2 linked regions of the Homo sapiens genome follow. The protein of the gene in region 1 purifies or fractionates together with the protein of each later gene. This does not show direct contact. Each region holds a gene or a part of one and is shown on either strand. Other genes may lie near its edges.

Region 1 (9,215 bases):
GGGGTGAGTGACAAGTGTGCCAATCACCCAGTGACTGAGCAATGAGGTCCTCACTGAAGCCCACTCTGAAAGAGAGACTCAAATACAGTCCAGAGAAGTTCAGTGGGAAAAATGTATACAACATTGTAAATGTTTTGGTCAGAATTGTTGAAAATTCTGGGTGAACGTCCAGAGAAAACTGGTTTCCTGCTAACCCATGAAACGTGATTCCTTTCTCAGAGTATGTGATGTGTTTGTGTAATATTTCTCATTCCTCGATAAGCCGTCTCAGCCATGTCAGCCCCCACATTTGTGCTGAAGGGTTGAAACTCACGTTCCCAATGTCCAAAAGCTCTGCTGACTCTGAAATGTAGACCTCGTGAGGACAATAATTTACAAAGGTCAAATATTTTTATATATTTATAGGAACAAATATTTTTACAAAGAACATGTGAACTTTATATAGTAGCTTGATCTTTATGTGTGGCCAAAAAATGGATTTCAAATTTCTAGTTGACCAGATGATTCAAGTTACCTACAGTACTGTTAGCCCTGAAGATTGTTTTTAAAAGGCAGGTAGTGGGTAGTGGTTGTAGTTTTTCTTAGGATAGGTCTTTCTGAAGGCAATGCATTCTACTAACACTCTAAAACTAAAATAAAATTTAAAAATGCTCATACTTCATGTAACAAGATCATCCCACAGTCCTTGAGAATAGCTATTATTTTACTCATTTAATAGGTTTCTGCCATTTACTGATTTCTGTGGGCAGGCACTATGCTGGGAAATTTACACTGATCACCTCTAGAGTCCTCATATTACATAACATTGTAGGGCAGAATTTATCATTCGTATTGTGTTATTGAGGAGCAGAAACTCAGAGAGGTTGAGCAGCTGGCCCAATGTAGTAGCACTAGCTTGTTATAGAGGAGGACTCAGATCCAGTCCTCCCTTCAGAACCCAGGTACCTCTAACTCCGGGTGGGGTTTCTGAAGCAAGCAATTGGCTGCAAAGGTTAAAGGGAGGGCTCGAACCTGATTGTCTGATTTTATGTTTAGGTCTCACTTGATCTTAGCCAAAAGGCCGAGAAGTGATTGATTTTGTGTTTAGGTCTCATATTCTCTCTCCTTTTTCTTTATAATTTCATTAAAAAATATATAATATATGCACATGGTTCAAGTAATCAAAAAGATAGAAAAAGGTATACGTTGAGAAGTTCTGCTCCCTCCCGTATCCCCACCCACCCCATCCCTCACTGCCTTAGTTTCTTATTTATCCTTCCAATGTTCCTTTATGAAAATATAAGAAGACATGAGTGTAAATTATTTACCTCCTTTTTTACACAAAATGTAGTATAATTCTCTCTCTCTCTACAGTCACACACATACACATACAGTCACACACAAACTCCCACACAAAACTATGTATCTTGCATTTTTGTACTTAGCAGTATATTCTGGAGACTTTTTCATGTCAATACATAAACAGCTACCTCATATGACCTCATGTTTTCTAGAGGTGTATAGTGTCCCATTCTGTAGATGTACCAGTCCCTATAGATGAACACACTGCCTTCAGTTCTTTTCTTTTTCTTTCTTTTTTTTTTTTTTTTTTTTTTGTGACAGGGTCTCACTTTATTGCTTAAGCTGGAGTGCGGTGGTGCGATCACAGCTTACTGCAGCCTTGACCTCCTGCTGAGGCAATCCTTCGGCCTCGGCCTCCCAAGTAGCTGGGACTACAGGTGCATACTACCATGCTGGGCTAAATTGTTTTGCGTATTTTTTGTAGAGACAAGGTTTCAACATGTTGCCCAGCCTGGCCTTGAACTCCTGAGCTCAAGTGATCCACCCTCCTCAGCCTCCCAAAGTGCTGGGATTACAGGCATCAGCCGCTGCACCCAGCCTTTCAGTTCTTCATACTACAAAAGAAGCTGCAATAAATAACTCTGGGACCTCCTTTTGTACTCAGGCAGATGTATTTCTCAAATGCATTTTCAGAAGTGGGCTTGATGGGTCAGAGGGTAAATAGATTTGATTGTATGATTTTGAGACAAATTATTGGAGTTTGTGTCATTTTACACTTCCAGAAGCAATGCATGAAAGAACTGTTTTCCTACAGTTTCACCAACAGAGTTTGTTGTCAAATTTTGGGGGTTTGCTCATCTGATAAGTGAGAACTGGCATTTCAGTAATTTTAATTTTAATTTGAGTTTCTTGTATTATGAGAGAGGCTGAACATCTTTTCCTATGTACAAGGACTAGTTTCATTTTTTCCTCTGTGAGCTGCCTGATCTTGTCCTTTGCCCATAATTACATTGGTTGTTGATCTCTTTCTTCACAATTTTTATGAACTTTATCTATTAAGGAGAGTAACCAATTGTCTGATATGCATTGCAAATACTTTTTGCTAGTTTTTTTTTTTTTTTTTTTTTTGGTTTGGCATGTGGTGATTTGTTCTTTTGTTTTTATTTTTGTTCTTTTTAATTTTTTAGGTCATGGAAATCAAAAGGTCAAATTTATCAAACTTTTACGGCTTCTGGGTTTTCAGTCATAGTTATAAAGACCACCCATTCTAAGATTACATAAGGATCCTACTTTAGGACTCTTTAACCACAAACAAACACTTGATTTTGGTGAGACTTCATCTCTAGAACATGGTTCCTTTACTGCAATATCCTTTTGGAAAAAAATGCTAATGCAGATAATCAAGTAATGTGATACATTAAGAATTTCATAGGTATGCTACCAGGAAACTTTTGTTTTGGGGTCTCTAATCCATACCTTGGGAGCATGACACACAGAGGTGAAAACCCCATGTGACATCCATGGCCATTTCTTTTCTAGACAAGCGACTCTGATACAACCAGCCCCACCGGACAGCAGCCGAGCGATGCGTTTCCGGAGGACAGCAGCAAAGTACCCAGGGAAAAGCCAGGAGACTGGAAAATGCAATCTCGTAAAAGGACTCAAACACTCCCTAACCGGAAATGTTTCTTGACATCAGCTTTTCAGGGTGCCAACAGCAGCAAAATGGAGATCTTTAAAAATGAATTCTGGTCGCCTTCCTCAGAGGCTAAGGCAGGGGAAGGGCACAGGAGAACGATGTCTCAAGACTTGCGCCAACTTTCTGACTCCCAACGGACTTCCACCTACGATAACGTCCCTTCCCTGCCAGGGTCCCCTGGGGAGGAAGCCAGTGCACTCTCTTCCCAAGCCTGTGACTCCAAGGGAGATACTCTTGCCAGTCCAAACTCTGAAACTGGGCCTGGAAAAAAGAACTCTGGAGAAGAGGAAATTGATTCTTTGCAGAGGATGGTCCAAGAGCTACGAAAGGAAATAGAAACACAGAAGCAAATGTATGAGGAACAGATTAAAAAGTAAGTCAGACAGAGGGGCACTGAGAGGCACTTGGCTTCCATCTTTAGAGACAAGAGGGATTGTTCCCATCCGCCAGAGAAGTCACATCATAAAGCTTCAATTTGGGGAAGACAGTAATCTATAGCAGGCCTAGAAAGAAAAGAGTAAAGGGAACAATGAGATAGCTAAATTGGTGAACACTCTAAACTTTAAACTAGATTTAGGAAATGTAAATATCTAGCTTAAGTAGTTTAATCAATAATTTCCAAACAGTGGTTCAAGAATCAACATGCTTTAATTAATTTAAAGGAAATTAATTTTTTTTATGTTAAGGTCATTCATTGATTCTGCAAATATTCCTCGAGCCCCTCCTCTGTGCCAGGCACATTCCAGTTGTTAGGGTATAGCACTGAACAAAAGAGACAAAAGTCCCTGCACTTACAGAACTTCTAGTGGGGACAGATGGACAATACAAATATATAATAAAATATATGTTATGTCAGCTGATGGCAAGTGCTGTGGAGAAAAATAAAGTGGGTCAGGAGGTTGGAAAGTTCAAGGAATGGGTTCCAATGTAAAATAGGGGGGTCAGGGAAGGCCTCCGTGAGAAGGCAGCAGGTAAGTAAAGGCCTGAAGGAGATGAGGAGCAAGTCAGGTGTGTAGATGGGAGATGACTATGGCCAGTGCCGAGCCATGAGAAAAGAGCAGTCCCCCATGGTCCCACCCAGGAAGAGTGGAAGCTGCCTGGGGCCAGGGAGAGTGATTAGAGGAGATGAGGGTGGAGAAGTACAGGAGGCCAGGACGCAGTAGGGTTTTGTCAGCCACTGCAAAGCCTGAGTAAGAAGCTTCGGGGTGGTTTCAACCTGGTTTATGCTTCATTGGCTCACTGGCTTCCCATTGAGCACCGGCTGCAGGGGGCAAACAGAAGCGGGAGGCCAGTTAGGCAGCTATTGCCTCTGTCACATGCAAATTCCCAAGATCTGTGCACACAATTTGTTCTCTTGGGTAGATAGAGTATTTTCTTGAAATATTTTTCACACTACTGATTGGCTGGCAAATTTGTTTTCAGGAGAGAAAGCCTTGATCCAGCTGTTCCCATATCAGCACTAGTCATGAGGCAGTGAAATGTGAATTCGTGGGCTCTTAGATTTATGGCTACGTCTTAGTCCATGCAGACTCAGGTATCTGAAGGGAAGACTACTTTGAACCCTCATTCATTGTTCCACACAGAGAGCTGCCATCCAGAAGCAAAATGTAGCTTGTTTGTCTAAGAACCTGAAACCAATCATTTGTAGAATTAAAGACTTCTGTGACATCTTGGCAGTGATCAAAGCAGTCCCATAGAAGGCACACACTGCCCTCACATATGAGTATCTTCAACAGGGTAGAAAAAGAACTGGCTGCCACAGATGTGTCAGAGTCCTCTGAATCCATCAGTTGGGGAAGCCTCCCATCCCAGGCTCCTGAGCCCACACAGATTCTACCTTCCACTGGAACCCATGGTCAGGATCTAGCACAGTGCCTCACTTGGAATTTCTTCCAGAACCAGAGGGGTACAGAGAACTTGGAGAAGAAAAGTAGATTTGTAATGAGAGGGTCAGAAGGAATGGCCGGGCGTGGTGGCTCACGCTTGTAATCCCAGCACTTTGGGAGGCCAAGGTGGGTGAATCACGAGGTCAGGAGATCGAGACCATCCTGGCTAACACGGTGAAACCATGTCTCTCCTAAAAATATAAAACATTAGCCAGGCATGATGGTGGGTGCCTGTAGTCCCAGCTACTCAGGAGGCTGAGGCAGGAGAATGGTGTGAACCTGGGAGGCGGAGCTTGCAGTGAGCCGAGATCATGCCACTGCACTCCAGCCTGGGCAACAGAGCGAGACTCCGTCTCAAAAAAAACAAAAGGAAAAAAAAAAGATGGAATGAGATCAATTTAGCTTTAAGAAGAGATAGGTGGGGGTAAGCAAAGTTCTGAAGATGGATTGTTACCCACAGAATAGGCCAAGGCCCTTGAAGATAGAACCCAAGTTTTGGGCTCACATGGGAGCTCAAGTCTCCCTTGTGCAAATGGGCAGGCCATTTGGGGAGAAGGGAGGCACACTCTACAGAATGAAATTCTGAAACAAATTTCCAGTCACACAATCGGCATGTGTACACTCATTCCTAAGGGTTAATTCAGCACAGCCTGGCAGGGGGCCACCTGGCACTACATTAGGATTTGGGCCAGTAACGATTAAAATCCTAGCAATTCAGGAATCCCACAGATTTTTCACCTGGCATGGGATTCAGAAGTGAGGGTGAGACTGCCAGGACCACAGCTCCCCAAAGGGCAGTTCCCTCTGTTTCTCCAAATCTTGGTCCCCAGGAGATCCTTAATAAGAAAGGGTGCTGATCTATGCTCTCCATTGACACAGGATGAGGAGGCACTCATGAGCACAGAGGTGTGAGAAATTTGAAATATGGATGGGGCTTCCAGGACTGATACAAGGTGCTGTGGGAGTGAATATATAGATCTGTTAGAACTGGTCCCTCCTTTCAAAGACTTTGTTATCCGGTTGAAGATACAAAACATTAAACGACATGAGAAAAAACACAATAGATGTCACAAGATGGTGTTAAATGACAAATGAGGGGGCTGGGTGTGGTGGTTCATGCCTGTAATCTCAGCACTTTGGGAGGCCAAGGCAGGCGGATCACGAGGTCAGGAGATCAAGACCATCCTGGCTAACATGGTGAAACCCTGTCTCTACTAAAAATACAAAAAAAAAGAAAAAATTAGCTGGGTATGGTGGCGGGCATCTGCAGTCCCAGCTACTAGGGAGGCTGAGGAAGGAGAATGGTGTGAACCTGGGAGGCGGAGCTTGCAGTGAGCCGAGATCGCGTCACTGCACTCCATCCAGCCTGGGCAACAGAGCGAGACTCCATCCAAAAAAAAATGACAAATGAGGGGCTCAGAAGTACTGTGGGGATTCAGGTTTTCTGGGACATCTTCATGTGGGAAGAGGGACATAGCTGAGAGGTTGGATAAGGGTCTTGTGATTTGAAAGGAAAATGAGCAGCAGGTTGTGAGCAAGGGGGAAGGAAGAGTCTAGAATGAATGCCACATTCTTTCATTCTTTTCTTTCCTTCCTTGTAGCCTTGAGAAGGAAAATTATGACGTTTGGGCTAAAGTGGTGAGGCTCAATGAAGAACTGGAGAAGGAAAAGAAGAAGTCTGCAGCCCTAGAGATCAGCCTCCGCAACATGGAGCGCTCCCGGGAGGATGTTGAGAAGAGGAACAAGGCCTTGGAAGAAGAAGTCAAGGAATTTGTCAAATCCATGAAGGAACCCAAGACCGAGGCTTAAGGGTCCCAGGAGTACTGCAGGGACAGCCCCAGAGAGGCCCAACTCTGGCCCCTTTCTCAGTGCTATCTGATGACGGGGAAACAAAATTATTCTCTGAGAGGGAAAGGACATTTGAGGGAAACATCAAATTTCCCCATAAATAAATGAATGGAGTTTGCAGGAAGGTGAGGGTGAGCAGAGATGTGTGTGGACATCTCTGACCATCCATCGCTGTATTCAAATGGATTGTTTTATTCCATTCTGGTCTCAGGCATGACCACGTCCAGTGAAGACATTTGAGGCAGCACATCTCAGGACCCAGGCAATAGACTGGCCCCAACTCAGGCTGGACTAAGGTGTGATTAATTCTTTGTTTTTTGTGTGGAACAGCTCACCTTGTCAGACAGCCTCAGGGCATCTCTGAGACACAGGGGCAGAAAATGACATTCATCTTTTGAGTCCTCATCCATGGAGTGCTGTGTTTGGGGGGCTGCATCTGCTGAAGCGAGAACCCCATTCTGCCACCCCACCAGGATGCCCATTCTCCAGGACTTCTCCAACTTACTATTAGACTAAACCAGAACAAGCAACAAACTGTATTTATGCAAGCAAAATTGATGAGAAAATTATATTCAAATAAAGCAAAAATTAAAAAAAAAAGGCTATTGCTAATCCATACGGCACCTTTGTGAGAATTAGCAAAAGACACTCCTTCCTTGGGGCAGGTGGCTTGCTGAGCAGGGCATGGGCTGAATTTCAGTCCTGACTTGCCTTTCAGGGACAGGTGTTTCTATACTTGCGGAGCCCCCATTTCTTCTGTATTTCACACAATTGCTGTGGGAATTACATGAGAAGAGGTAATCTAGTCCCTACTTGCTTTTTAATTGTGTATGGAGGGCCTGGGAACAAACGCTTCCTACTATGATAGGATTTGTTGTGGTTTTAGACAGTAATTTTCATGATAATAGTTTCTTTTTTCCTGTTTCACCAAAATGCAAGTGATTTTACCCTTAAAGGGACAACAGGCACTAGATGATAGGTGGGAGAGGGGCTTTCCCAGTGGACAGCTGATTCTTCCCCTTCTATGTCAAGCCAGCTTGGCAGAGGCCCTGGTCAGGCCCCGGACCTCTAGGTAGGTTGGTTGAGTCTTTTTTTGTTGTTATCATTCTAATTGGATGGTCTCCAAGCTCTTTTGACTGGGTAACTCATCAACAGAAAATGTTTGAGCATACACCCCCCAATATATTTATTTATTTATAAATTATATATATGTACTACTATAGTACTCCATAATGTATATTATAAAATTCACAGAACAGTAACTGAATAATGATGAGATAAAAACAAAGATCAATAGATGTTCCCAAGTGTGCTTTCAGCTCCGGAGACCCCTGACCCAGTTGCCCAGGAGGTATTACCTGTACCAAATTTATATCTTTCATCCCACTGCTCCCATAAATGTGCTTGAACTCTTGAAGCCCCGTGGCTTAATCAGTGGTTTGGAATCTATGGTTGCTGCAGTGAGAGTTTAGCCTTCCCAGCACATGGGCCTCCTCTGTCATTCCTTTTTCTCTCTGTCTTCTTCACTCTGGTTAGTCCTCCCTTCCTATGGCCAGGACTTATTACCCACAGAGTGAAAGTACAGACAGTAGCATCAGCATTTCTTGGTCCTGCTACTCAGGCCCTGCTCTACCAACGCCAGCCCCTTTGAGGACCAGATTGATGGAGAAGGAGGGCGACTCCTACGGCATTCCTATCTAGGCCTGCTTGCAGAAGATTGAGGGGAAACTCATCTGGAACATTCGTAAGAAAAGCAATAAAATATTGGGATTCCTGAGTTTTAGGTGTTTTTAAATAACAGGATAGCAAACATGGAAACACTTATTGACCACCTGACTTACGTTGGCGAGTGCCTGCATTTCTGCCAGGCACATATCCTTGTGTTCTCCCACGGATTCCTCACACTGACTCTTTGGGGGCTAAAACAGAGTTGAATATGGAAGTGGCTGCTGTCACAATTTCCAAAGAAAACATTTGTCTGAAGATGCAAAGAGGAGGCTCTCAAGTCTGTTTTGAGGCCCGTGTCATTGGCCCTTACTGGGTCCGGGAGCCAGAGCTCGTGCTGAGTGGAAGTGCCACGTTTGAATCCCAACTACCTCCTGGTCTGGCAGTGTCTCTCATTCTACTTTTTTCCACCAGTATTATGAGACAACAGAGCAGCTGTTGGCCTCAGAAGCACTAGACAGCCTAGCCTGCAAGTGTCAATCCCTCTTCACAATCAAGAGAAGAGTTTGGCTCGCTTAAGTTGCTACTATTTGCTCCTGTGCCACCTTGCATACAAGGAGAAGACAAGAAACAGGGTTTTTTTTTAGGACCCTGGGACCTTATGAGTGCAAGGGTCACACAAACCCCTTCATCCTGCTGAAAAAGGCTGGGAGGAGGGAGCCCCTGAGGGCCAGAAAAGAAGATCTGGAGTCTGATGGCACTGTTTTAATGCCCTCAAAAGGCATGCATGTGATTGCATGACAGGGTAGCTCCAGGTCTCACCTGGACCAAAGGAC
Region 2 (4,996 bases), on another chromosome or scaffold:
TGTGTGTGGGCAGGTGCTGGCTGGGGCGGGAGCTCTGCAGTGTGACCTGTGTCAGGACTGGTTCCATGGGCGGTGTGTGTCAGTGCCTCGCCTCCTCAGCTCTCCGAGGCCCAATCCCACCTCATCCCCACTGCTGGCCTGGTGGGAATGGGACACCAAATTCCTGTGTCCACTGTGTATGCGCTCAAGGCGCCCGCGCCTGGAGACCATCCTGGCACTGCTGGTAGCCCTGCAGAGACTGCCTGTGCGGCTGCCCGAGGGCGAGGCCCTGCAGTGCCTCACAGAGAGGGCCATCAGCTGGCAAGGCCGCGCCAGGCAGGCTCTGGCCTCTGAAGATGTGACTGCTCTTTTGGGACGGCTGGCTGAGCTCCGCCAACGGCTACAGGCTGAACCTAGACCTGAGGAGCCTCCTAACTACCCTGCAGCCCCTGCTTCTGACCCCCTCAGAGAGGGCAGTGGCAAGGATATGCCTAAGGTGAGCTACTCAGCCCAGCTCTTGTCCTCAGATTCTTGTCTCCTAGCCCCTACCCCAGTTTAGGCTCGGCCCTGCCCCTTGTTCTCCAATTTTCAGTTTTCTTTGGACCAGCCTTCCTACTCCATTCTGCATCTGTCCAGATTCCTAGACTCTGCTCCCTGCTGGCAGCCTGTGTCTTCCCTCCTCCTCCAGAAGGCGGAGGGTCTCAAGTTTGGGGTTGGCGGAGGAGGAATAGGGCCTGGTTCTTCACTTCAGTTGCCCCTACCTATTCTTGCTCTCCTCCGCAGGTCCAGGGCTTACTGGAGAATGGAGACAGTGTGACCAGTCCTGAGAAGGTAGCCCCGGAGGAGGGCTCAGGTAAGAGAGGTAGGTCTAGGTGTGGTGTGGGTAGGCTGTTGACTGCACATCACCATAGTGACCCATGTAGTCCTCAGCTCTGTTGTAGTGGTGGGGATAAGACCAAGGGCAGCCTCTAATGCCGCTTGTTCCTGCAACCTCCTAGATCTGGAGCTGCTGTCCTCGCTGTTGCCACAGTTGACTGGCCCTGTGTTGGAACTGCCTGAGGCAACCCGGGCCCCCTTGGAGGAGCTCATGATGGAGGGGGACCTGCTCGAGGTGACCCTGGATGAGAACCACAGCATATGGCAGCTGCTGCAGGCTGGACAGCCCCCAGACCTGGAGAGGATCCGCACACTTCTGGAGGTGAGGAGAGGGGTCATGGGCCGGGCCAGGAGGTCAGGCCGAGTAGGGAGCCCAGGCCTGACCACTGGCCCACAACCTGTCTTTCTGCCTGTCTGTAATCACAGCTGGAGAAGGCAGAGCGTCACGGGAGTCGGGCTCGGGGCCGGGCCCTGGAGAGGCGGCGGCGGCGGAAGGTGGATCGGGGTGGGGAGGGCGATGACCCAGCCCGAGAGGAGCTAGAGCCAAAGAGGGTACGGAGCTCAGGGCCAGAGGCTGAGGAGGTCCAGGAGGAGGAAGAGCTGGAGGAGGAGACTGGGGGTGAGGGCCCCCCTGCACCCATCCCCACCACTGGCAGCCCCAGCACCCAGGAGAACCAGAATGGCTTGGAACCGGCGGAAGGGACCACTTCAGGCCCCTCGGCCCCTTTCTCCACTCTGACTCCCCGGCTGCATCTGCCCTGCCCACAGCAGCCGCCTCAGCAACAGTTGTGACAGTGGCTGAGCCTAGCACAGACCCTGACAGAGACCCCCCTCGGCCTCAAGGATCCTCTTTCTGACCATCAAGCCTGCTTCTTGGGGGGTGGGCGGGTAGGGGGGTGGCCATCCCTGCTACCCGCCCACCCCTGAGTCCCTTGACTTTTGTATTCTGACTCCAAGGTATTGTTCAGACCTCAGCTCCTGGGGGCCGGCCCCTGGAGTCTTCCCTCCCTGGTAGCCTCTAACCAGCATTCCCAGACACCTGAGGCAGATAGATGGATGGGCTGGTGGGCAGGGGGGTGGCTGGGGCTGGGCCATCACCATTCCAGAGACAAGGCCAGTGTATATGCAAACTGGGGGACTCTCCTCCCTTCTCTCCCCAGTTCTGGTCCTGGCCAGGCCATGCTACACTAACCCCTGCCCCCACTCTCCTCCCCTCTTTTCCTTCCTTCCTACCCCCTTCTCCCTCTCCCTTCCCCTGACTGTTCCACCCAGGAGGAGGAAACTTCACATAGCCGTGCTCACAGTTTTTTATTTTAAAGGAATTTGGCTGGGGAGCTGAACAGGGCTCCCTGTGATCTGAAGAAAGCTTTTGGTGCTTGTCCTCACAACCACCTCAGTCCTCCCTCCCTGTCCTCCCCTGTCTCCTTTCCTCCTCCTGGGTTCATGTTGTAATAAAAGAAGATTGTTGGTGTGTAATTAATTTGTTCAAAAGAAAAAAAAAAGCAAAACAAGAAACTTGGTTCCAACTGAAGCCTATTTTAATTTTATTTTATTATTTTCCTCTTGTTAGAAATAAAACCCTTAGAAACATTTTTTGGAAACATGTTTCTGAAGTGCATTTCTCTTAGACGGGGAAGACAGTGCTTCCATCACCAGTCAGTGGAGCAGCTGTAGTGCTGGCAGGAGCACTAGGGCTGAAGCCAGGGAGCTCTGGGTTCTGAAATCAAGTTCCACCAGCTTCTTAACCTTGGGCAAGACATTCTGATCCTCCCCCGACTCTAACCCCAAGCCACTTTCCCTCAAGTCCAAACAGATGGGCTCGGGCCCCCTCACCCAAACTCCTACACTACAACCTCCCCCAGTTGATGCCCTCCAGTTTATCCTCCTCAAGCTCCCAAAGGGATTTTTTTGTTAATGGCTTTATTGAGATATAATTTACATACTATAAAATTCACTTGTTTGAAATGTACAATTCAGTGATTTGGGGGGTTTCTAAAGTGTAGATCTGATTATATACTGCTTAAAACCTTCCATGATGCTTTATTGCCCTTAAGATTATACATAGAATCTCGTTCTTCCTAGAATGTTTTCCTGTCTAACCCATCTACTGCATAATTCCCTGATTTTTCTCCACAGGTTATGCCCCTGATGAATGGGGACTAAAGCTCAGATGTGTGGTCATTTGCAACCCCTGAGTTCACTTTTTTAAGACAGCTTATTGATATATATAATGTACATACCATACAGTCACCCACTTAAAAGTATACAATTAAATAGCTTTTAGTATATTCAGAGTTGTGCAGCCATCATTCGAAAAAAAATTTCAGAACATTTTCATCACTGCAGAAAGAAACTCCATATCCCTTAGGCGTCCTTTACCCCTCATCCCATTTGCCTATTCTGGACATTTTACATAAATGGAATCGTATAATATGTGATCCTTTGTGTCTAGCTTCTTTCACTTAGCAAAGTGGTTTCAAGCCCATTAATGGTCCCATAGTAGTTGGAAAGATCTCTCTTCTGAGTCCCAAAGTCTTTAAGATGAGGGTGCTGGACTAAATCAGGGACCATCAACAGATTGTTTACATGTTTTTGTGGGTGTTTGCATGCATGTGTTTTTCTGACAAGAAGACTAACCAGCTTGTATCAGATTCATAAAGGGATCCTTGACCCTCCAAAGGCTAAGAACCATTCTTTGTGGTCTTGAGTGTTCTGTGTTTGGAGTCTGCCCATGATACGAGGATACAAAGGAGGAAGCAAGAGTATGGAAGCCCTAAGCCAGTCAGCTTCCTATCATGCCTGCCTCAAGGGCTTTCCGTCCTCTCAAGGGGCTGTGAGGAGGCTAAAGGCTGGGTCCTGATCCCTAGCCCAGGAGCTTAGCACACTGCCACTCTTATTTTGCTTTCTCATCTGAACGTTCATGGGTTTCATTCCCCCTTCCCAATATTTGCAGCTGATAGGAACCTAGTGGTAAATAAGAAAGCCCGCCCTCTTCTGGCAGCTTTGATTGGTGGGAAGGTCTGGCTCAGCCCTGCTTCATCTAGTCTTCCAGTTGGGACCCTAGGCTATACAAGTAAGGAGAGAGAGAGGAGTCCGTGGACAACCCTGCCGGGTCCAGCTTGACCCCAGGTCTCAGTCTAGGGGAAAAGGCTGACCTTTTGGCTGGAATTGATCATGAAAAGGGGGTTGGAGGAGCTGACAGGAGAGATGAGTGTGAGAGCTGGGATGGGCAGGAAGGGGCTCAATCTCAGCACTTAACTACCACTGCCAAGGCAGTCAGCCACAGGAAGTGTCCAGACAGGAGAGGAAGAGATGGTGCCTACAACCTGAAGCAACTCCCAGGTTAGAGAACTGCTTGGCCCAGGACGGAGGCCTCCCTGGTATAGGCCCATCCTTCACCAGTTTTCAGACAGCCTTTACCATGTTGGCACGTCTGTGTCCCATCCCTCACACACTCCTTCACAGCAGACATGCATTCCATGAACTCTGCAGGAGAGGCCCTGGCCATCATCCTGCAAGACCCAGATCAAATCTAACCTCTTCCAGAGAGCTTTCTCTGGTTCCAAATCTGCCCTCTTTCCCAGATACTCCCCTAGAAAGGGAGGGGGACTGGCTCAGGGGACACCCTCCCCCTCAGATAAGGGGCTGGGGAGAATGAGGTCAGGGAAGCAGTGGGTATCTTCTCACCTCAAAGTCATTTTCTATTATAGAGATATCACCTAGCTGCCGAGTCCTCCCAAATGTTGCCACATCCCTCAGGATGGCTCCTGAATCTGCAGGTGACAAGGGGATGGAAAGAGACATCACTTCTATTAAGGACTTTACCCAAACCCTTCAGGCCCAACTGAACCCTTCTTCCCCTTCTCCTTAGTGTCTCCACCTGTGCCTTACCTGGTGTCTGAAACACACTAAGATTAATAGGTCTGTCTCTCCTCCCACCCCCAAGCTCTGGAGCTTCTGGAGGGAAGGCAAGGCCCAGGCCTCAGTCTGTCTCCACTTCCAGGCCAAGGGCCCGCAATCTAGCTTAGAAGGAGGTAGGAGCATCAGTTGGGGCTCCACACTGTGCATATGACTCTGTTTCCTTTGCATTGCAGAGTCCAGTGGTACAGGATACCACCCCTTGGGAGTGGCGCCTGGGGTC

The links.
Region 2: the proteins of ARHGAP25 (region 1) and KDM5C purify together in Homo sapiens (affinity purification with mass spectrometry; 3 studies listed by BioGRID and IntAct, with this or other methods). This does not show direct contact.

The regions. Positions count from the first base shown.
Region 1 is NC_000002.12:68,819,520-68,828,734, forward strand, and holds the end of ARHGAP25 (rho GTPase-activating protein 25), read left to right. Parts: intron 1-2,820; coding exon 2,821-3,353; exon of another isoform or gene 3,354-3,483; intron 3,484-6,467; coding exon 6,468-6,675; 3' UTR 6,676-7,314; downstream 7,315-9,215. UniProt on the Homo sapiens protein: GTPase activator for the Rho-type GTPases by converting them to an inactive GDP-bound state.
Region 2 is NC_000023.11:53,189,618-53,194,613, reverse strand, and holds the end of KDM5C (lysine-specific demethylase 5C), read left to right. Parts: coding exon 1-475; intron 476-762; coding exon 763-841; intron 842-977; coding exon 978-1,177; intron 1,178-1,281; coding exon 1,282-1,647; 3' UTR 1,648-1,776; coding exon of another isoform or gene 1,777-1,870; 3' UTR 1,871-2,456; downstream 2,457-4,996. UniProt on the Homo sapiens protein: Histone demethylase that specifically demethylates 'Lys-4' of histone H3, thereby playing a central role in histone code. Does not demethylate histone H3 'Lys-9', H3 'Lys-27', H3 'Lys-36', H3 'Lys-79' or H4 'Lys-20'.